Linked DNA regions of Homo sapiens. The gene in region 2 interacts genetically with the main gene of each other region. Each region holds a gene or a part of one and is shown on either strand. Other genes may lie near its edges. The genes, in order: MAP4K1 and GRAP2.

What was found.
Region 1: of GRAP2 (region 2) and MAP4K1, changing one enhances a phenotype caused by changing the other (phenotypic enhancement), as found in Homo sapiens cells (one study listed by BioGRID).

Annotation. Positions count from the first base shown.
Region 1 is NC_000019.10:38,584,945-38,596,517, forward strand, and holds the end of MAP4K1 (mitogen-activated protein kinase kinase kinase kinase 1), read right to left. Parts: intron 11,543-11,573; coding exon 11,368-11,542; intron 11,058-11,367; coding exon 10,995-11,057; intron 10,786-10,994; coding exon 10,696-10,785; intron 10,612-10,695; coding exon 10,541-10,611; intron 8,394-10,540; coding exon 8,338-8,393; intron 4,332-8,337; coding exon of another isoform or gene 4,234-4,331; intron 2,874-4,233; coding exon 2,804-2,873; 3' UTR 2,697-2,803; downstream 1-2,696. Other genes in the region: RYR1 (ryanodine receptor 1), read left to right, coding at 1-155, 994-1,058, 1,147-1,247, 1,581-1,632, 2,381-2,476. UniProt on the Homo sapiens protein: Serine/threonine-protein kinase, which plays a role in the response to environmental stress. Appears to act upstream of the JUN N-terminal pathway.
Region 2 is NC_000022.11:39,951,210-39,962,969, reverse strand, and holds part of GRAP2 (GRB2-related adapter protein 2), read right to left. Parts: intron 7,152-11,760; coding exon 7,060-7,151; intron 2,916-7,059; coding exon 2,796-2,915; intron 2,574-2,795; exon of another isoform or gene 2,051-2,573; intron 1-2,050. UniProt on the Homo sapiens protein: Interacts with SLP-76 to regulate NF-AT activation. Binds to tyrosine-phosphorylated shc.

The DNA.
Region 1 (11,573 bases), on a different chromosome or scaffold from region 2:
TTACCTGTTTCACATGTACGTGGGTGTCCGGGCTGGCGGAGGCATTGGGGACGAGATCGAGGACCCCGCGGGTGACGAATACGAGCTCTACAGGGTGGTCTTCGACATCACCTTCTTCTTCTTCGTCATCGTCATCCTGTTGGCCATCATCCAGGGTCAGTGCTGGGAGTGGGCGCTCAGGGCCCGGAGGCAGGCTAGCTCCATGGCTAAGAATGCAGGCCCAGGATCCAGTCGGCCTGCATTCATACCCCATCTCTACCTCTCGCTACTGTGAGACCTTGGGCAAGTCACCTCTCGGGGCCTCCGTTTCTCCATCTGCAAAACGAGGGTGTCAATGGTACTAACCTCATAGGTTGTGATCAGGATTAAGTCAGTTCATAGGCGCTCGGTGTCTGGCTCATATGAGTGCTCAATAAAGGCCTGAGATATATATATATATATATGTTTATTTATATATATATGTGTTTATATATATTTATATATGTGTTTATATATATTTATATATATGTGTGTGTGTCTATATATATATATGTATAATTTTTTTTTTGAGAGGGAGTCTCGCTCTGTTGCCCGGGCCAGAGTTCAGTGGTGCAATCTTGGCTCACTGCAACCTCTACCTCCCAGGTTCAAGCGATTCTTCTGCCTCAGCCTCCTGATTAGCTGGGACTACAGGCACATGCTACCACACCCAGCTAATTTTTTTTATTTTTTTATTGTTAGTAGTGAGGGGGTTTCACCATGTTGGCCAGGCTGCTCTTGAACTCCTCACCTCAGATGATCCGCCCACCTCAGCCTCCCAAAGTACTGGGATTACAGGCGTGAGCCACCGCACCCGGCCAATAAAGGCCTAATACTATCTTCTTAGGAAGCGAGATTAGGGGTGAGATTAGGGAAATGGGGGATGGAGGGCAAGCCCTGGAGGTAGGTAGCTGGAGAGGGGGGAGTCTGAACCAGGTCAGAGGTCGGGCACTGACTTGTGTCCTGCCACCCCAGGTCTGATCATCGACGCTTTTGGTGAGCTCCGAGACCAACAAGAGCAAGTGAAGGAGGATATGGAGGTAGGTCATGTCTGGGGGTGACCCAGAGGGATTACGGGATTCAGGGGGTCAAGTGGGCCTCCACTCTGATGTCTCTTGCCACTCACAGACCAAGTGCTTCATCTGTGGAATCGGCAGTGACTACTTTGATACGACACCGCATGGCTTCGAGACTCACACGCTGGAGGAGCACAACCTGGCCAATTACATGTGAGCAGACACACTGGCCAGTCAGGAGGGTGGGGGGCATGGCTGCCAATAGCCAGCAGTGGGGTACTTAGCTTTGGCCAGTTAGGAAAGGGGGTGTAGTGTCCATGTGGGCAGATTCCCTGCCAGCCAATCAGAAGGTAAGGGTGGGGCCCCGCAAGATGGTTCACACCTGTAAGCCCAGCACTTTGGGAGGCCAAGTGGGGAGGATTACTTGAGGCCAGGAGTTCGAGACCAGCTTGGGCAACATAGCAAGACTTCCTCTCTACTATAAATGAAAAATAAAATAAGGTAAGGGTGGTTCTGACTTGTCTCCTGTGGTCCTCTCACCCTCAGGTTTTTCCTGATGTATTTGATAAACAAGGATGAGACAGAACACACGGGTCAGGTAAGGGGGTGTTAATGGGAGGACAGTGGGCAGGACGTGGAGCCCTTTAACATAAGGCCAGTCAGTAGGTGGCAGTAAAAAGCTCCTATCAATATCAAGGGTTAGGGCTGGGGGCTGGGCACGGCGGCTCACGCCTGTAATCCCAACACTTTGGGAGGCCAAGGCGGGTGGATTACTTGAGGTCAGGAGTTCAAGACCAGCCTGGCCAGCATGGTGAAATTCAGTCTCTACTAAAAATGCAAAGATTAGCAGGGCGTGGTTGTGCATGCCTGTAATCCCAGCTACTTGGAAAGCTGAGGTGGGAGAATCGCTTGAACCCAGGAGGCAGAAGTTGCAGTGAGCCAAGATCATGCCACTGTACTCCAGCCTAGGTGACAGAGCGATACTCCATCTCAAAAAAAATGGGTTTGGGCTGGGCGTCCTGGCTCACGCCTGCAATCCTAGCACTTCGGGAGGCCACAGCGGGAGAATTGCTTGAGACCAGAAGTTCAAGACAGCCTAGGAACACAGCGAGACCCTTTCTCTATTAAAAAATTAGCCAGGGGTGGTGGTGTGCACCTGTAGTCCCAGCTACTCTGGAGACTGAGGTGGAGAATCGCTTGAGCCAGGAGGCTGTAGTGAGCTGTGATTGTCGCCACTGCACTCCAGCCTGGGCAACAGAGCAACACCCTGTCTAAAAATATATATATATATATGTCTCAAGGGTTTGAAGATGTGACCAATGAACTCTTTCTATCCCCAATCCTAGGAGTCTTATGTCTGGAAGATGTACCAAGAGAGATGTTGGGATTTCTTCCCAGCTGGTGATTGTTTCCGTAAGCAGTATGAGGACCAGCTTAGCTGACACACCCCCAGCTGGCCCTCCACCCCCACCTCAAGTGCCTTATTCTCACAGCAAGCCCCTTAGTCCCCAAGCCCCTCCCCCTAAGGCAGCTGGGGGAGAGGTGACCTAGTACTGGAAAATAAATCTGTGCTACGCCCCCCAGCATCACTGTGTTGGCCTGCTGAAATTTTGGAGGAGTGGACATCCAGGAATTGTTTCCCCCAAGAAAAACAAGATGACAGCAGAGGCTAAAGTCATGTTTATTGGGAGATGAGGACATGCCATGACCACTAGTGTGTCTATGGGGGAGGGGGTGCAAGGACTAGTTCCTGACACCCCCCTAGGGACTCATTCCTGGATGTAGAGGTTGCTGGGAGCAGTAGGATCATCCACTGGGCGTGTCTCCACCACTACAGGCCTGTGGAAGGAAGAGATAAGTCAGTTCATTTATTCATTCATATGTTCATTGATTCATTAATTCACAAAGTAGTTAATAGAGACTGTGCCAGCCCCATGCTGAACTATAGCAGTGAATGGGCAGACACGGTCCCTGCCCTTAGGAAGCTTGCATTCTAGAGAAGGAGATCAACATGAATCAGTGAATTACATGAGTGCAAAAAAGCATGGCATGTCTGGCAGGGAAACCTAACCCAGGAGGTCAGCCCAGACTCCCCAGAGAATGGATGGTGCAGCCTGAAGGGGGGTTAGGAGGGAACTTGGTGAAAGGGCAAGGAAGAGTGTTCTGGCTGGGGAGAACAGCCTGTGCAAAGGATTTGAGGTGGGAGAAAGGCTGGGACTTGGCTGGAGATGTCATGGCCTTGTGGGCTGTGGCCAGGATTGAGTCTTTATCTTGAGGCCATGGGAGGATTTTAAGCAGGGAGACAGTGACACGATCAGATTTGGATTTAAAGTGACCCTTCTGGCATGTCAAAAGGACACAGGGGCTACTTAAAGTGGTTCCCACTGGCTAAATTTAAGACCATTTGTGCCTCAAAATAAATAATGACAAGGCCGGGCATGGTGGCTCATGCTTGTAATCCCAGCACTTTGGGAGGCCAAGGGGGGCAGATCACTTGAGGTCAGGAGTTCAAGACCAGCCTGGCCAATATGGTGAATCCCATCTCTACTAAAACTACAAAAATTATCCAGGTCCATCCTGGCTAACACGGTGAAACCCCATCTCTACTAAAAATACAAAAAAAAATTAGCCAGGTGTGGTGGCAGGCACTATAGTCCCAGCTACTCGGGAGGCTGAGGCAGGAGAATGGCGTGAACCTGGGAGCCAGAGCTTGCAGTGAGCCGAGATAGCGCCAGTGCACTCCAGCCTGGGCGACAGAGCGAGCCTCTGTCTCAAAAAAAAAAAAAAAAATTTATCCAGGCATGGTGGTGCACGCCTGTAATCCCAGCTATTCGGGAGGCTGAGGCAGGAGGATCGATTGAACCTGGGAGGCAGAGGTTGCAGTGAGCTGAGATCACACCACTGCACTCCAGCCTGGGTGACAGAGCGAGACTCCATCTCATAAATAAATAAATAAATAATGACAGTAATAGACTATAACCCACAGAATAAAAATCCATGAGACCATGCTGGTATAAAGAAAGAAGAATGGAGAAGACACAGCTCTTCTTTAGAGTAGAATGCCAACTAACACACGCAGAAGGAAACATAGAATCAGAAAATCACCATTTATTGTTAGTAGCCACCTAACAATAATAGATTCAGGGAAAAATCAATTGATTCTAAAACTAGTGGGCAGGCCAGGTGCGTTGGCTCAAACCTGTAATCCCAGCTACTCGGGAGGCTGAGGCAGGAGAATTGCTTGAACCTGGGAGGAGGAGGTTGCAGTGAGGCGAGATCGTGCCACTGCACTCCAGCCTGGGGGACAGAGTGAGACTCTGACTCAAAACAACAACAAAAGACAAACAAAAAACAATAAAACTAGTGGGTGAAAATCTGATGAGAAACAACGTATTTACAGACTATTTACCTCGTCTCAGTGAATCTCCCCAAAAGATACTTCTTTTTTTTTTTTTGAGACAGAGTTCACTCTTGTTGCCCAGGCTGGAGTGCAATGGCGCGATCTCGGCTCACTGCAACCTCCGCCTCCCGGGTTCAAGCGCTTCTCCTGCCTCAGCCTCCCGAGTAGCTGGGATTACAGGCATGCAACACCATGCCCGGCTAATTTTGTATTTTTAGTAGAGACAGGGTTTCTCCACATTGGTCAGGCTGGTCTCAAACTCCCGACCTCAGGTGATCCACCTGCCTCGGCCTCCCAAAGTGCTGGGATTACAGGCGTGAGCCACCGCGCCCGACCGGTGGGATACTTCTTATTACAAAGAAAAACAGAGGCTGGGTGCGGTGACCCCTGCCTATAAGCCCAGCACTTTGGGAAGCCTACACAGGTGAATCTCTTGAGTCCAGGAGTTCCAGACCAGGCTAAGTAACATGGCGAAACCCTGTCTGTACAAAAAATACGAAAATAAGCCAGGTGTAGTGGTACGCGCCTGTCATCCCAGCTACCCGGGAGGTTGAGGTGGGAGGACTGATTGAACCCAGGAGGTCGAGGCTGCAGTGAGCCATGATCGCGTCACTGCACTCCAGCCAGGGTGACAGAGAGAGAATCTATCTTTAAAAAAAAAGAAAAAGGGAGAAAAAAGCAACTTCACAGTGGAGAGAACTGGCTGATTCTACCTTAACCAAATGACCGAAGTTAATATCACCAGTAATGGGACAAACTAGCATTGTGTACTTCCTGAAATGATGCACTGAGAAAGACATCTTTCTGCAGTATTCCTGCCCAAAATTCAGAACGTGGAAACCTCAAACACAGTTAAGGGACATTTTAGAAAACAAATTTCCTTTAATTTTTAAAAAGGTCAAAGCTCCTTTAAGACAAAAGAAGTTTTAATTATTTTTTCCGGCTTAATTATAAAGAAACATGGCTCCTAAGTGCCACCTATGATCTTGGACCAGAAAAAAAAAAAAAAAAAAAAAATATATATATATATATATATATATATATATATATATATATATAATCACGGGCGTCACTAGGACAACGGGTGAAATTTTTTGTTGTTGTTGTTGTTGTTTTCTGAGACAGAGTCTCGCTCTGTCACCCAGGCTGGAGTGCAGTGGCGTAATCTCGGCTCACTGCAACCTCCACCTCTCCGATTCAAGTGATTCTCCTGCCTCAGCCTCCCAGCTGGGATTACAGGCACGTGCCACCACACCCAGCTAATTTTTGTATTTTTACTAGAGGTGGGGTTTCTCCATGTTGGCCAGGCCCATCTCCAACTCCTGACCTCAGGTAATCTGCCCACTTCAGCCTCCCAAAGTGCTGGGATGACAGGCGTGAGCCACCACACCTGGCCAACTGGTGAAATTGAGTAGGGGTATGAATTAGAAGGTTGTGATGTTTCAGTGTTGTTTTCTTGATTTTGACAGCTGTGCTGTGGTTTGTAACATTATGTCCTTGCTTTGATTCAGGAAACATACACTGAAGTATTTTAGGGGTAAATGGGCATCACGTCTGCAATTCATTCCCAAATATTCATTAAAAAATCACACACACACACACACACACACACACACACACACATATACTTGTATGTGTGGTGTGTGCGCATAAGAAAGAGAAGAGGCCGGGCATGGTGGCACATGCCTGTAATCCCAGCTACTCGGGAGGCTGAGGCAGGAGGAGTGCTTGAACCCAGGAGTGGGAGGTTGTGGTGAGCTGAGATTATGCCATTGCACTCCAGCCTGGGCAACAAGAGCGAAACTCTGTCTCAAGAAAAGAAAAAAAAAAGAATAATAAGGCAAATGCGGTTAAAAAGATTAACATCTGGCCAGGTACAGTGGCTCACGCCTGTAATCCCAGCACTTTGGGAGGCAGAGGTGGGTGGATCACCTGAGGTCAAGAGTTCGAGACCAGCCTAACCACCATGATGAAAGCCCACATCTACTAAAAAAACAAAAAAATTAGCTGGGCGTGGTGGTGTGCAACTGTAGTCCCAGCTACTCAGGAGGTTGAGACAGGAGACTTGCCTGAACCCGGGAGGCAGAGGTTGCAGTGAGTGGAGATCCACTGCACTCCAGCCTGGGCCACACAGCAAGACTCCATCTCAAAAAAAAAAAAAAAAAAAGATCTGGTTAATCTGGATAAAAGGGATTTTTGCAACTTCTCTGGGAGTGTGAGTTTTAAATTATGTCAAAATAGTTAAAATAGTTATTTTTAATAGTTAAAAATTTTTAATAAGATAAAAATCTAAAATAAAAATGCAGCCAGGGCTGGGCACGGTGGCTCATGCCTGTAGTCCCAGCACTTTGGGAGGCCGAGGCGGGCAGATCACCTGAGATCAGGGGTTCAAGAGCAGCCTGGACAACATGGCGAAAGCCTGTCTCTACTAAAAATACAAAAATTAGCCGGGCACAGTGGCACATGCCTGTAATCCCAGTTACTCGGGAGGCTGAGGCAGGAGAATCGCGTGAACCCAGTGGGTGGAGGTTGTGGTGAGCTGAAATCACGCCACCGCATTCCAGGCTGGGCAACAGAGCAAGAATCCGTCTCAAAAAAAAAAAAAAAATGCAGCCAGGTGTGGTGGCTCATGCCAGTAATCCTAACATTTTGGGAGGCCAAGGTAGGAAGATTGCTTGAGGCCAGCAGTTCAAGGACAGCCAGGGCAACATGGCAAGACCCCGTCTCTACAAAAAAATTTTAAAAATTAGCCAGTTGTGGTGGTGTATGCCTGTGGACCTAGCTACTTGGGAGGCTGAGGTGGGAGGATCAGTTGAGCTCAGAAGGTCAAGACTGCAGTGAGCTGTGTGTGTAACACTGCACTTCAGCCTGCGCAACAGAATGAGACCTTGTCTCAAAAATGAAATAAAATTAAGGCCAGGTGCAGTGGCTCACTCCTGTAATCCCAGAACTTTGGGAGGCCAAGGCAGCTGGATCACCTGAGGTCAGTAGTTTGAGACCAGCCTGGCTAACAAGGCGAAACCCCGTCTCTACTAAAAATACAAAAAATAGCCAAATGTGGTGGTACACACCTGTAAACCCAGCTACTTGGGAGGCTGAAGCATGAGAATCACTTGAACCTGGGAGGCAGAGGTTGCAGTGAGCTGAGATTGTGCCACTGCACTCCAGCCTGGGCAACACAGCGAGACTCTGTGTCAAAAATAAATTTTAAAAAAATTTTATAAATAAAAGAATTAAAATTAAAAAATAAAAGGATTGGCCAGGTGCAGTGGCTCATGCCTATAATCCCAGCACTTTGGGAGGCCGAGGCAGGTGGATCACCGAGGTCAGGAGTTCGAGACCAGCCTGGCCAACATGGTGAAATGCCATCTCTACTAAAAAATATAGTATTAGCCGGGTGTGGTGGCACATGCCTGTAATCCCAGCTACTTGGGAGGCTGAGGCAAGAGAATCGCTTGAACCTGGGAGGCAGAGGTTGCAGTGAACCAAGATCACACCATTGCACTCCAGCCTGGGCAACAAAAGCAAAACTCCATCTCAATAAATAAATAAATAAATAAATAAATAAAAGAATTGCTGGGCATGGTGGCACATGCCGGTAGTTCCAGATACTCAGGAAGCTGAGGTGGGTGGATCACTTGAGCCTGGGAGGTCAAGGCTGCAGTGAGCCGTGGTCGTGCCATTGCACTCCAGCCTTTGAGTACAGTGAGAAACAAAACAAAAAGAGAGAACGCCCCCGTGGCTGCAGTGCAGAGAACAGACTCTAGGGAGCAGGGATGGAAGCAGGGTGACCAGGTGAGACACTGTCCAGGCTAGAGATACCTTGCTGGGGACACCTCAGAATGCTCTCTTCACATCAGAAGCCCCCTCCCAGGTCCTTCTGCACCCCACCCCACAACATACCTGGGGGAGCCAAGCAGACGGAAAGTGAGGGTAGGGTCTCTCAGCTCCTGTAGCAGCTAGGGAAAAAAAGTGTGTGTCTCAGTGCCTGGAAGATACCTCCACTGTCACTACGAACATGGCTCCCTTAAAGACAGCAAGGAGCTGGGCACGGTGGCTCACGCCTGTAATCCCAGCACTTTGGGAGGCCGAAGTGGGTGGATCACCTGAGGTCAGGAGTTCGAGACCAGCCTGGCCAACATGGCAAAACCTCGTCTCTACTAAAAATACAAAAATTAGCTAGGCATGGTGGTGCGCGCCTATAGTCCCAGCTACTCAGGATCTGAGGCAGAAGAATCACTTGAACCCGGGAGGCAGAAATTGCATTGAGCTGAGATTGCGCCACTGGGCGTGCCACTGGAGCCGAGATCTCCAGCTGAGATAATTTTTGTATTTCTACTGAAAATACAAAAATTAGCCAGCTGTGGTGGCGCATGCCTGTAGTCCCAGCTACTTGTGAGGGTGAGGCACGAGAATCGCTTGAACCTGGGTGGCAGAGGTTGCAATGAGCCAAGATTGTGCCACTAACACTCCAGTCTGGGGAACAGAGCGAGACTCCATTTCAAAAAGAGGGAAGGAACTGAGTGAGCAAAAATAAATAAATAAAAATACTAAAGTGTAAGGGCAAAGTCTGACACAGTATTCTGTGAGATAAACACCATTTTCCAAATGAGGACAGTGAGGCACAGGAAGGTTAAGTCATTTGCCCAAGGCCACTCAGCTGAATTCCAACCCAGACAGTCTTGTCTTAACTATCCATATATCTCTATAGTGGTCCCCATTTTACAGTTGGGGAACAGAAGCTTAAAGAGAAGCAACGTTGCCAGCCCAAGGTCACAGTAGTGGCCCAGGATGAGATTGGGACTCAAGAAATCCAAGAGCAGCCAGGTGCAGTGGCTCACACCTGTAATCCAAGCCACTTGAGAGGCTGAGGAGGGAGGATTGCTTGAGCCCAGAAAGTCAAGGCTACAGCTAGCTATGGTTGCACCACTGCACTTCAGCCTGGACAAGAGAGAGAGACCCTATCTCCAAAACAAACAGGCCGGGTGAAGTAGCTCACGCCTGTACTCCCAGCACTTTCGGAGGCTGAGGCGGGCAGATCACTTGAGGTCAGGAGTTCGAGACCAGTCTGGCCAACATGACAAAACCCCGTCTCTACTAAAAATACAAAAATTACCTGGGCATGATGGAGTGTACCTGTAATCCCAGCTACTCGGGAGGCTGAGGCAGGAGAATCACTTGGACCCAGGAGGCAGAGGTTGCAGTGAGCTCGGATCATGCCACTGCACTCTGCCCTGGGTGACAGAGCGAGACTCTGTCTCAAAAAATATATAAAAATGGCCAGGAGTGGTGGCTCACACCTGTAATCCTAGCACTTTGTGAGGCCAAGGAAGGCAGATTGGCTGAGCTCAGGAGTTTGAGACTAGCCTGGGCAACATGGTGAAACCCTGTCTCTACTAAAAATACAAAAAAATTAGCTAAGCATGGCGGCATGCACCTGTAGTCTCAGCTACTCAGGAGGCTGAGGCAGGAGAATTCTTTGAACCTGGGAGGCAGAGGCTGCAGTGAGCCGAGATCGCGCCACTACACTCCAGCCTGGGTGACAGAGCAAGAATCCATCTCCAAAAATAAATAAATTTTATCTATCTATCTATCTATCTATCTATCTATCTATCTATAAAATAGGCCGGGTGTGGTGGCTGACAGCTGTAATCCCAGCACTTTGGGAGGCCAAGGCGGGTGAATCACCCCAGGTCAAGAGTTCAAGACCATCCAGCCTGATGAACATGGTGAAACCCCGTCTCTACTGAAAATACAAAAATTAGCCAGCTGTGGTGGCGCATGCCTGTAATCCCAGCTACTTGGGAGGCCGAGGCAGGAGAATCGCGTGAACCCGGGAGGTGGAGGTTGCAGTGAGCCGGGATCGCACCACTGCACTCCAGCCTGGGCAACAAGAGTGAAACTCCGTCTTAAATAAATAAATAAATAAAAATAAAATAAAAAATAAATCCTGGGGCAAAGAAGGGGATCTATCTGAACTGAAATTTGGAAGATGTTTCCCCTCCAGGACTTCACACTCTGACTCAGGAGTTCTCGGAGCCCATCTGATGAATGTCATGATGGAGGCTGGGGGGCAGTGATGTGGAGTTTGGATGGAGGGGCTTACCTGATCCGAGCCTAGAGCCCACACCTGCACTCCATGCTTCCAGAAGGCCTGAAGCTGACCTCCAACCATAGCTGGGGAGAAAGCAATGCCCGTTACCCTTGGGGATCACTTGAGTTTCCACCCCTGATCCTGGGCTCTCCCGTCCCTGCACAGACCCACGGCCTCCACCGCTTCGGTCATGGGGATCTCAGGTGTGCGAAGTCCCCGGACTGGGGACCCCTCCGGGGTCACCAGCTTCACAGAGCCTGGAAGGAGATAGACGGTTTTAAGAACTGTGAGCAAGGCTTAGAGGGTTACTAAGGGACCAATCCATAAATTCAGTGTGAAAGCTATGTAGGACAGGGGCAAGGCCCAGAGGGGCTCAGGGGGTTCTGAGAAGCACAAGTTCGGAGGCAGAGATCTAGGGACTGCAGCTGGAGGGGTGGGGAGGAAGGGGAGGAAGGAGGGTTCTCACCATCCATCAACACCATCACCATATCTTCCTCTACCTGGGTCACCTGCACGGGTCCCCTGTGCTCTGTTTGGGGGGAGTGGGTTAAGGATTGACCCCACCCCATTCCCCTTTCCCCACACCACCCCCAGAAGGCCAGTACCTGTGCTTTAGCCACCGCCTCAGTTCACAAGCAAGTGGGCTAAACCCCGCCCACCATCCCGGTCCCACCCCATCATCAATCTCCCCAGTTAACTAAAACCTGCCATTCTCCCTTCTCCGCCCTTCCAGCCCTTTCTCAGTCCCGTAGTGCCTCAGGCTAAGCGAAGCCCCGCCTCCAGCTCCGCCCCTCCGGATCTGATAAGCCCCGCCCTCAGCAAGACTCCGCCCCACTCACCGGTGCTCATCTCGCCCAGCCAGCAAGAGAGCGCGCCAAAGCGCACCGTGTGGAAGAGCACCGACTTCCCCGGCCGCCCGGGGCTCACGCCGATGCACACAGCGGGCAGCTCAGAGCCTGGCCCGGTCAGCAGCGCGAACACGGACAGAGGCGTCGGCAGTGGGAACAGCACCTGCTGCGGGCCGCACAGGGAGGGGCGGGCTAGG
Region 2 (11,760 bases):
GGTCCGGGCACAGTGGGTCGCGCCTGTAATCCTAGCACTTTGGGAGGCTGAGGCGGGTGGATTACATGAGGCCAGGAGTTCAAGACCAGCCTGGCCAACATGACGAAACCCCGTCTCTACTGAAAAAAACCACACACACACAAATTAGCCAGGCGTGGTGGTGCGAACCCATGGTCCCAGCTACTCAGGAGGCCAAGGCACGAGAATTGCTTTGAACCTGGGAGGCGGAGGTTGCAGGGAGCCGAGATTGCGCCACTGCACTCCAGCCTGGGCGACAGAGCGAGAGTCTGTCTCAAAAAACCAACGAAACCACAAAAACCATAGTTTCTAGCTGAAAAAGCCAGAGTCATCTTCATGCAAACCAAAGGCCCAAGAGATACCCCTCAGTCTAACAAATTACTTGGTCAAGTTTATGATGGGGTAAAGAGGGGAGGCTTAAGAAATAGATTTGACTTGTAATATATATACACGCATGTTAAATATATGTATAATTGTTTTTTCTAATAATATATGTATATAATATATGTAAATAATTTTTTTCTCTTGAGACAGGGTCTTGCTCTGTCACCCAGGCTAGAGTGCAGTGGTGCGATCGATCTTGGCTCACTGCAACCTCAACCGCCCAGCTCCAACAATCCTTTAACTTCAGCCTCCCAAGTAGTTGGGACCACAGGCATGCGCCACTGCACTGGGTTAATTTTTTATTTTTAGTAGAGATGAGGTCTCACTAGTTGCCCCGGCTGGTCTCCAACTCCTTGGCTTAAAGCATTCCTCCCAACTCAGCCTCCCAAAGTGCTGGGATTAGAGGCATGAGCCACGGCGCCCGACCCTGACTTGTAATATATGTTAATGGAGCGAAATTTCATTAATTAAGACCTAACAAGATTAGAATTTGTGATACATCAATATTGGCCTGAACTAAAGTTAACCATTCTCCAAGCTATGAAAATAAAGTTTTTACTGAAGAAAAGAGTTTAAGCAAGATTGCAAGGGCAATGCTAAAGAGACCACTTTAAAGGTATGTATGCATACAAATTGTTGACCTGTTATTTTTAAGTCCTTCCTACCTATCCTTTCAAATATCCATTCTTTCTAAACAGCAAAGTGGCCACAGTTTATTACTTGAGATTGGATTTCTGTCCTTAAAACAAAGCTTTATGCCTTTCAAAATATATTGAATAAACCAGATCGGTATTTCCTGCCAATAACTTGACAGTAAGGTTTTGCTGTACTTCTCCTGATCTGCTAACAGCATTATATTCTTGCAGTTTCACATGTGGTGAAGTCTGATACGTGACTTGCGATCCTCAACATGCTGACCACACACAGTGTGTTCCGAACTGGGCTTCTGAGTTTGGGGCTGTGTAATGTCTACGCGTGGACTGAGTCACTTCCTATGGGTTGCTGCACCTTAGTGAGATTTCGCTGTTACAGTCCTCCCCCACTCCTGGCCCTCTGTTCTGTGGTTTTCGGTCTTGCTGTACTGTACTGTGTTGAAGTAGCCTTTCTTTTTGTTCAGCTGCCTACAACTATACATGTATTTGTTGGGGCTCAGAAAACGACACCCCTTGGCATGCTGAGTGCTTCGAACCAAAGGAGATGGGAAGGTTTCAGAAGCAGCCTTGGAAGCAAAGTCTTCCTTTGGCCTTCTCCTGCCCTCCTGTCTCCCGCTCCTCTTTCTCCCCCTGAGTGAGTCATAGAAATTAGAATTCCTCTTCCCCACAGTGGGTCAGAGAGACTAGAAGGGTCACTATGGGGGAGGCCAAGGCAGGAGGATTACTCGAGGCCAGGAGTTTGAGATCAGCCCAGGCAACACAGTAAGACCTAGTCTCTACAAAGAAATAAGTTAAAAAAATATTAGCCAGGTGTGGTGGTGTGCACCTGTATCCCCAGCTACTTGAGAGGCTGAGGTGGGAAGATGGCTTGAGCCTGGGACACAGAGGCTGTGGTGAGCAATGATTGCGTCACTGCACTCCAGCCTGGGCAACAGCTGTCTCCAAAAAAAAAAAAAAAAAAGAAGACTTGGGACAGGCCTTGTTCAGTTTCCTACCTCAGTCTGTTACCTTAGATCAAACCCCCTTTGTCCAATCCCATTTCTACAGGGCTGTCTGTCCTTTGACAAACCTAAGCATAAAAATAGACGGCTTTCCCTGGGTCTTGGGTCTTCATTTCTGAAGGCTTCTGTGTCACACAAGTCTTTGATTAAATAAATGTGTCCACTCTCCTCTTGTTAACCTGTCTTGTAGGAGTGTCAGCTGTGACTCCTCTGATGGGCAAAGAAAGGTGCCACAACTTTTCCGCCCCTGTATATCCTACAGCAGTGACTTGAGATTTCTATTTTTCTCTGACTCTTCTTCAGATATGCATCAATCATAAAAGAAAAGGTTAAGATTTAAACCCCCAGATGGATCTGGACAAGTGGGAGTTCTCCTCCTCCTATCCCTCCTTCCTTCCACAAATACTCACTGAGTGTCTCTCTTTTATGCAAGACACTGTTAAAGGCATAAAGATGAAGTAGAGGAAAATCCTGCCCTTCCAGAAGCACCTGGGCTAGAAGGGGAGGCAGATGGGCGTAGAAATAATTTCAAACACACACCAGTGTTCTAAAGAGTGGTGTGTGCATGTTTTGGGAAGGCACTGGGAGCAGCAGGTTGTGAAGCTGCTGCCATGCTTGGCCCCTAGGCCACCATGCTTCTGACCATTGGGTCATATTCCAGAGGTCCCTTCATGGCTTCAGCATTCTGTGAGGTTAACAGGCCGAGAAGGGCCAAGGCAGTGTCAGGAATGGTCAGTACCTGACAGAGATGGAGAAGTCCCCTGGGGAGCTCTGGCTGGCCCGGATGATGAAGAAGCCAACCTCCTTGCCCATGAGTAAGTTCTCTGCCTGGTGTCGAGAGAGGCCTTCGTGAAACCATCTGTGGGGGCGAGATCAAACAAAAGGATCAGGATGAGACACAGGAGTGACAAGAGGGAGACGTGGAGAAGAGGTGACCCAGAGGGAAAGAGGCTGGGGACTCTGTACAGTAGGGAGCAGAGAGAGACCAGGTGCTGTTTGAAATCAAACCAGTGCTCCAGGCAGCTTTCAGGAAAGGCGAGGGAGCATTCCCCTTGATTCACCCTCTTTGTTCCTTCTCTCCAGGAGAAGTCTCTCTCCAGCCTGGGAAACGAATCATGGAAATGTGTCGCTGCACCAAAATGGGGCAGTGTGGGAGTGACTCACTGCAGGAAGCAGCCGCCTGCCGGCAGCTGCGGAAGAGATAGACCAGAGCTGCGAGGACAGAGGATGCACTGGGGAGGGAAGGGAAGGCTTCAGGCACTGGAGCCAACCAGGTGCAGCCGGCTGAGCAGGGCCTGGGGTGCTCATGCCTGCCCTGAGGTCTCAGTGGCCTAGAGGTTCCTCCCTGGGTATTAAAGGAAAGTTACAGCCCAGGGCGTCACGTTACCTAGGCTGGCATGGAGCACAAGGGGGCTTTGCTCAGTGTGCCTAGCAGAGGCTGCAGTGTTCCTAGGGAGTCCAGTGTACATGCTTGGAAATCAGCGAGGCTGGCAGCCGCCAGAGAGCGGCGTCTATACAACCAGATCCTGGGCCTGCCCCAAAAATCCAGGCTGGGAAATAATCTTTACTGTGGAAAAGAAGAAACAGGAGAAATTACTCTTTTAGCAGAATGGTCAGGGTGGCAGCCCCTGGAGGTACAGCTGCATACAGCGTGGCATGTATGAAATAGGTCAAACACTTACACAGGGCCAGGCAAGCTGTGGCTGCAGCCTCAAAGCAGGAGGCCAGAGACCTCTCTCCACCACAGACAAGCAAAATGAGTGTCTGCAATCACTCAGCGGCCAAAGGTGGGACTGTGTCACATTGCTTCAAGGTGGCTGCTCTAATTGCTGTCACCAGAAGGCTCATACGCATGTTCCTTTAAGATAAAAGCCCGTCAGGCCTTGGCTTTGGATTCCTTTGTGAGCAATTCTCTGTGCTTTCTAGAATTTGGGAAACTGAGACATAGGTAGCAGGAAGGATGTACTTACTGGAGACTGAGTCCCCCACTGGGACTGAGGGGGAAGTTTGGCTGTGCTCTGAGAGGGCTGAAAGCAGCAGTTTCTGGTGGCCTGGAGATTCTGCCTGAGTATTTGCCACACAATTCTACAGGGCTAAACAAGAGGCCACCACACACACCACTGCCACGTGTGGGAAATGTAATGGGGATGGGAAGAGGAATGGAGTATGCACCACAGCAGCCATATCGCAAAGGAAACATTTCAGAAGTGAAGGGGATTTAGGAAATACACATTTGTCCTCTGACTGCAATCTGATAGGGGGCTTCTTTAAAGATTTGTAAAAATCACCACACATTGCATATTAGACATGAGTGGTCATGGTTTCAATAATACATATTCGTTCGTTCATTCATTCATTCATTCATTCAACAGCTTTACTGAACATCTAGTACTGTGCTGGGCCCCTCCTGGGCACTGGGGACACAGTAGTGGGCAGAACAGACACACACCCCTGCCCTCAGGGAGCTTACATTCTAGTCGAGGGGGACACACACAAAAGAACAAAATAATTAAGATCTGAAGCGTGCCAGATGATGGTAAGTGCTGTGGAGAACATGAAAACTGAGAGGAGAGATGGGGCGCTGTGGGTGGGAGATTAATGTAAGGTATGGTGATGAGAAAGACCTCACTGAAAAGGAGACATTCTAAACCTATAGGGGACTGGGGAGTGGGAGGAACCAACACAAGAGACTGAGGAGGAGAAGCCAGGGCAGTGGGAGGACAACCGGAGGAAGGACGTCCTGGAGCCAAAATGAAAGAGGTGTTCCAGTGGGAGGGGGGATCCCCAGGGCAGGTCATGCTGAGATGACCCCTGGGAGCTACAGCCCATGGGGAGCCTGGTGGGAAGGGTCGGGAGATGAGGAGTTGGAAGTAGCAAATGCACACACTCCTTTTGAAGAGATGGAGTGGCAAGTGGAAGGGGATTTGGGATTAAGAATTTTCTTGATTTATTTATTTATTTAAATTTTTTTTTTCTTTGAAACAGAGTCTCTCTCTGCTGCCCAGGCTGGAGTGCAGTGATATAATCATGGTCCACCACAGCCTTGAACTCCCAGGCTCAAGCGATCCTCCTGCCTCAGCCTCCCAAGCAGCTGGGACTATAGGCGCATGCCACCACGACCAGCTAATTTTTAAAAATTTTTTGTAGAGATGGGGCTCGCTATGTTGCCCAGGCTGGTCTCAAACTCCTAGCCACAAGTGATCCTCCTCCCTCAGCCTCTCAAAGGACTGGGATTACAGGCATCAGCCACAACAAAACCCACCTGGCCTCTGGGTTTGGTTTTGTTTGTTTGTGTTTTGGTAAGTTGGGAGAAATTGCAGCGTGTGTGTTTGCTGACAGGAATGATCCAGCAGAGAGGGAAAGGAGGTTGACGTGGAAGAGAGAGAGAGGAGAATTTCTGCTAGAAGCAGTGACAGTTCCTTCCAGCCAGCTGCAGGAAAGGCCGACTGTTTGAGCACACTTGCAGGAGGCAGGTGGATGCGGTGGGGGAGGGGGGTCTGGGAGCTTCACTTCTGGTGGCTTTCATTGTTCCAGAGAACCTGGAATCAAGGTCACGGGCTAAGAGTGATGCACGGAGGGGCTGAAGGTTTGAGGAGCACGTGGGGTATGCAGAGGTCACCTAGCAGATTCCTGGGCAGCATCAAGGGTTCCGTCAAGGTCAGTGGTCATTCTCTTGGTTTGGTGGTCAGTTCAGGTTTACCAAGACTGGTGCTCTTGCACCTTGCTGGAGTCACCAATACTACTGTGGTTTTCTAACAAGCTTTTGCTCTTTGAGCTAGACCCTGGTTCTGAGGCAAGATTAGATTTCTATCTAACCCTTGTGGTCAATTCTTGAGACAAACGAAGCCCAATCTCAATTTTTCATTTCCTCTTTAGGAAGAGAATTTCCCCTTCCCCCCGCTGACTTCTCTCATTGGGGTGAGCATGCTTTACTGAAGGCAGGGAGTGTCTGTCCACCCACTGAGTGAAGGGTGAGAGCCTGGTGAGGATGGTTAGGATTAGGAGGTCACAGAGAAGCGCTTAGGAGAGCAGCTCCCGAAGTGGGGTGGCCAATAGCGTCCCCTTTGGAATTCTGGGGAACGCCGTGATTGAAATCACTATAGATAATTTGAGTTTACAAACTCATTTTATAAAAACTTAAAATAGGCCGGGTGCAGTGGCTCACACCTGTAATCCCAGCACTTTGGGAGGCCGAGGCGGGTGGATCACCTGAGGTCAAGAGTTTGAGACCAGCCTGTCCATCATGGTGAAACCCCATCTCTACTAAAAATACAAAAGTTAGCTGGGTGTGGTGGCATGCACCTGTAATCCCAGCTACTAGGGAGGCTGAGGCAGGAGAATTGCAATGAGCCGAGATCATGCCACTGCACTCCAGCCTGGGCAACAGAGCAAGGTTCTGTCTCAAAACAAATAAACACATGAATAAAAAAACCCAAAAAAACCCAAAACTTAAAATAGGCCAGGCATGGTGGTTCACGCCTGTAATCCCAGCACTTTGGGAGGCTGAGGCGGCAGATCACTTGAGGTCAGGAGTTTGGGACCAGCCTGGCCAACATGGTAAAACCCTGTCTCTACTAAAAATACAAAAACTAGCCTGGCGTGGTGGCATGTGCCTGTAATCCCAGCTACTTGGGAGGCTGAGGTGAGAGGATGGCTTGAGCCCAGGAGTTTTAGGCTGCAGTGAGTGGTGATGGAGTCACCGCACTCCAGCCTGGGTGACAGAGGGAGACCCCAACTCCCAAAAAAAAAAAAAAAAAGTTAAGAACAACTTAAAATAGCAATACATGCACATGGTGTAAACATCAAAAGGGAATGAAATGAAATGCAAAGTCTCCCTCCTGCCCTGGCCTTCAGCTGCATGCTCTGGAGGCTCTCCGGAGAGAGCTCCAGAGGCAGCCATTTTTGACAATGTCTTGGGTTCCCATGGATAACTGTAGTGACTGCTGGAAATGTAAGAGGAGTGTGTGTGGCTAGGCCCATCTCAGCAGGCTGCAGATACTTACTTGGGAAACTGGATGTCTATGAAATTCTTGGGCACATATCCTTCCTGGCTCCCAAGCTCCGCCTTAAACCACTCCTCTTGGTTACTTAAAATCTACATGGAAGAAAAGGAAAGACAAAGACATTGGAGGGAGGACACCAAAAAAACAAGAGAAAGGGGCTGCCAGGCAAAGAAGGCCCTTTTGGACTTAGAGGAAAATATGTTAATAAGTTGAAAGAACTCAACAGCTGTTCTAGGATTTACCCCAGGCCTGTGGAGGAGCCGTGGGTTTACCTTTGGAGTCAGCTTCTCCTGACCCCAGGTTATTTCTGTCCACTTGTGCCGTCCACTCATGTCACCCCACTGTGGCTTGGCCTCCCAAATTCAGCACTCAAGGACTTCCCTGAATCCCTTTTTCTATTTTGGAAATTCATTTGTCCCAGTTAGCACCTTAAGTTCCTCATCTCAGCAGATGGTGAGAAGGAAGAATGGTTACTCCACGGTGTATTTTTTTTTTTCTCTTCCAGGTAACCAGGAAACTTTTCTCTTTTTTTTGTTGTTGTTTTTCGTTTTTTTGAGACAGAGTCTTGCTCTGTCGCCAGGCTGGAGTGCAGTGGCGGGATCTCAGCTCACTGCAACCTCCACCTCCTGGGTTCAAGCGATCCCCCTGCCTCAGCCTCCTGAGTAGCTGGGATTACAGGCATGCGCCACTACACCTGGCTAATTTTTCATATTTTTAGGAGAGACGGGGTTTTACCATATTGGCCGGGACTGTCTTGATCCTTTGACCTAGTGATCCACCTGCCTTGGCCTCCCAAAGTGCTGGGATTACAGGCGTGAGCCACCAGGCCCAGGAAACTTTTCAAAAATTCAATTTGTTATTGTTTTTTAAACAGGCAGATTAAAACTTAAACATCCCAGTGGGGCCAGCTTTGGAAACAGTAACTCTTTGTGTTCACATGCTGTGTATTTCACAGATATTTGGCTGGAACCCAAGATACTTGGGATGCCTTTTCTAAACTTGCTTTTAAAGCCAGATCCCAAACAAAACCAAAAGTTCTGTCTTGTTACTCTGTGGCCTGACTTTGACTGTGACCCCAAATGTTATTGTCTACCTCAGTTACTCATATTACTCACCAGACTTGACTGTATGTGGCTTCTGGTTTCTCAAAAAATGAGATTCACCATTAAAAGACAAAATATTTGACACCGCCACTGAGAATGTTTTGAAAGTCTGAGGCCAGGTGTGGTGGCTCGCGCCTGTAATCCCAGCACTTTGAGAGGCCAAGGCACATAGATCACTTGAGGCCAGGAGTTCGAGACCAGCCTGTCCATCATGGTGAAATGCCATCTCTACTAAAAATACAAAAAGGAGCCGGGCCTGGTGGCACATGCCTGTAATCCCAGCTACTCGGGAGGCTGAGGCAGGAGAATTGCTTGAACCCAGGAGGCAAGGTTGCAGTGAACCGTGATCTTGCCACTGGACTCCAGCCTGGGCAACAGAGCAAGCCTCTCTCAAAAAAAAAATTTTTTTTAAGTCTTTGATATAGACTAGAACAATAATTCTAAATAAGGATAGCAGAGCAAAAGATGGAAAGAACTCTGATAATGTCACTGAACCGCTGAATTAGATGATACCCAGGAGCCTTCCTACTTCTGGACTTTGAGAAATTACAAGTCTTTGTTATTGTTTAAGCCATTTTTAGTTTATGTTTCTTGCTCCTGAAAATATCTTAACTGATAGAAGTGTGATGATAAAGAAGAAAGCAGAAATAGATAGAAAAGGCATCCATATGTAGAGGAGAGACCACTTGCCTTGGCAACGAAAGGAGTTACTGAGGCCAAGTCAGATGGCAATGGACTTCCTCCTTCAGCTCTGAGGAGGTGTGGTGTGTTCTGGGAATGAAATGCCTCCAGGTGGCTGGAATGTAGACTGTGAATATCTTGAAATGTAGGGGGAGCCCTTAAAGGATTTTGAGCAGGGAAGTAACAGTAAGAATTAGAGTTCAGAAAGAGCTCTGGCTGGGTGCGATGGCTCATGCCTGTAATCCCAGCACTTTGGGAGGCCCAAGTGGACGATCGCTTGAGCCCAGGAGTTTGAGACCAGCCTGGGCAACAAAGCGAGACCTTGTCTCTATGAAAATAAAAATAAAACTTAGCAAGGCGTGGTGGAAGCGCACCTGTAGTCCCAGCTACTCAGGAGGCTGAAGCGGGAGGAGGGTGTGAGCCCAGGAGTTAAAGGCTGTAGTGAGCTCTGATTGTACCACTGTACTACAGCCTGGACAACAGAGAGAGACTCTGTCTCTAATTAAGAGAGAGCGAGAGAGCGACAGAGCTCTGTATCAGAGATCAGAATGTGAAGATAGATTGCAAGGCTAAAGTCGGCAGAAAAACTGCAGGAAGATGAGCGCAGGCCTCCAGTCAAGAGATGATAGGGCCTAGGCTAAGAGGAGGTGAGGATATATTTTAGAGAAATTCAGGAAGCAAACAGGCAGGATTTCTTGACCAATCTTGGAAGCTAAGGGAGAGGAGGACTCTGGGATGCCACTGGATTTCTGGCTTGGGAGACTGAGTAGGTGGTGACGGCTTTACAGAAATAGAAGATACATGAGAGGAGGCAGGGCTGAGAAAGGGCTCATGGGCTTCAGATTGCATGCGGGTGACTGTGAGTTGAATTCTTCAACTAAGAAGAAAAGCTCAGGGAGCAGCTGGATATGTCAGTCTGGACCCAGGAGAGAGGCTAAGGTTGGGGCTTGGGGTTTCAGAGTCATCAGAAAGTGGGTGGAGTTGAAGTCACAGGGCCCTTGGGCTTCTTTCTCCCAGAAAAGAAGATGGGAAGATAATGGAAAGAACTAAGTGCTTGAGTGGAGATGATGACCTATTTCTAACATCACTCCAAGGTGGAAGGAAGGGGACAGTGTTGTGAGTTGGGAACGAGAAGACCTGGTTTCTAGCTTGGCTCCATCACTAGATATGTGATCTTGGCCAAGTCAATCAGCCATTTGAAAAATGGAGATAATAATAGCCACCTAGCACCTCACAGAGCTGATGTGAGGATCAAATGAGCCCTGGTACCTGAAAGTCCTTCAGAAAGTGTAGACTCTTTTCAAAAAATACAATTCCATCAAATGTGGTATTCTTATGAGGGAGGCCTCCAGCTCTGAATAGGACATGGAAGGGTTTATACGTTCTTTAAAGCATTATGTGTGTATGTTTTGAATTTAGTCATTTATTCTGAAGGAATAAAAGTGTGTCCCATATTTGAGTTTGAGATTGCTGAGAACAGAAAACTTTATAGTTTCTAACATCAAATGTGACTGCTGGTGTCACTAAGGACATGTGGGTATGTGTGTGCTGAGGGGGCAAGGGAGGAAGCAGAAAATCTAGGTCAAAAGAACTAGGAAACCCAGCAGCAGCGCCTCGTAGCCACGTAAAAACACAAGAGCACACTGCACTCCATCCATCGCTTCTGAATTCATGGCATTGGAATTCCTTTCTCCCGTCACATGGGAATGTGGTGTTTGGCCAGGGTAGCAAATGTCACACAGAAAGGGGTAAAAGAGGCCATTTGGAAACTACCTTGTCACCGTAAGAACCACACGTTGAGGCCGGGTGCCATGGCTCACGCTTATAATCCCAGCACTTTGGGAGGCTGAGGCGGGTGGATCACCTAAGGTCAGGAGTTTGAGACCAGCCTGGCCAACATGGCAAAACCTGATCTCTACCATAAAGACAAAAATTAGCCAGGCATGGTGGTGCATGCCTGTAATCTCAGCTACTTGGGAGGCTGAGCCACGAGAATTGCTTGAACCCAGGAGGCGGAGGTTGCAGTGAGCCGAGATTGCGCCATTGCACTCCAGCCTGGGCAACAGAGCAAGACTCTGTCTCAAAAAGAAAAAAAAAAAAAAAAAAACCACACACTTTGTACTTCATTTTCTGACCTGAAAGCAGCTCTGTAATTTTAGTTATCATGCCTCAGACCTCCTCTAGAAACTGAAAGATTATCCCACAATGCCAGCCATTTCTCTCCGCCACCTGGTGCTTGGTCTGCCTAACACTGTGTTTCTAGAGAGGTGAATTTGCAGGCTCTTTACCATGTATAGAAGGTGAGGTTTTTTTTTAAAAAAAATTCTCATTTTCTGCAAAGAAAAGTATTTGAGGGGAGGGGAGATGGTTTCCTCCTGCCGTTGTGGGCCCAGGGCCCCACACTTCCTGTTCTTCTCATCTCTCCATCTGTTCGGTTCCCCCTATCTCGTGTACCCATCGTGTAAACCTGAGCAAGGCGTTCAGCCTGAACACTTGAAGTTTTACTCTTGACTGTTTCTTAATTCTTATAATGTTCCCTAAGAGATGATTTTTTGGGTTACATGGCCTGTGAATAAGTTAGACGTGGGAAGAGAAGGGCCAAATTACGGCTGGAAGAATTTTTAAATTGGATGAAATTGTAGCTTTTAGAAACATAGCAAAAATCTGAAGTATTGAAGAAATGAATTATGTGGAATTAACTCTTAGTGCTTTTAGGTTGCTATTTTAGCAGGAAGAAATGAGGTCGCATTAGCTGCATTACAGAAGGAGACAGAAATGGACTGGGTCAAGAGATATTTTTCAAAGCTACTGGCAAATTTAATGGCAAATTCAAATGTGAGGCTGGTGCTGTGTGTAGCTGCAGGTATGGTGGTTTGTGGCATGAATAGGAAAAAAATCTGATTCCTGAGTTTCCAAA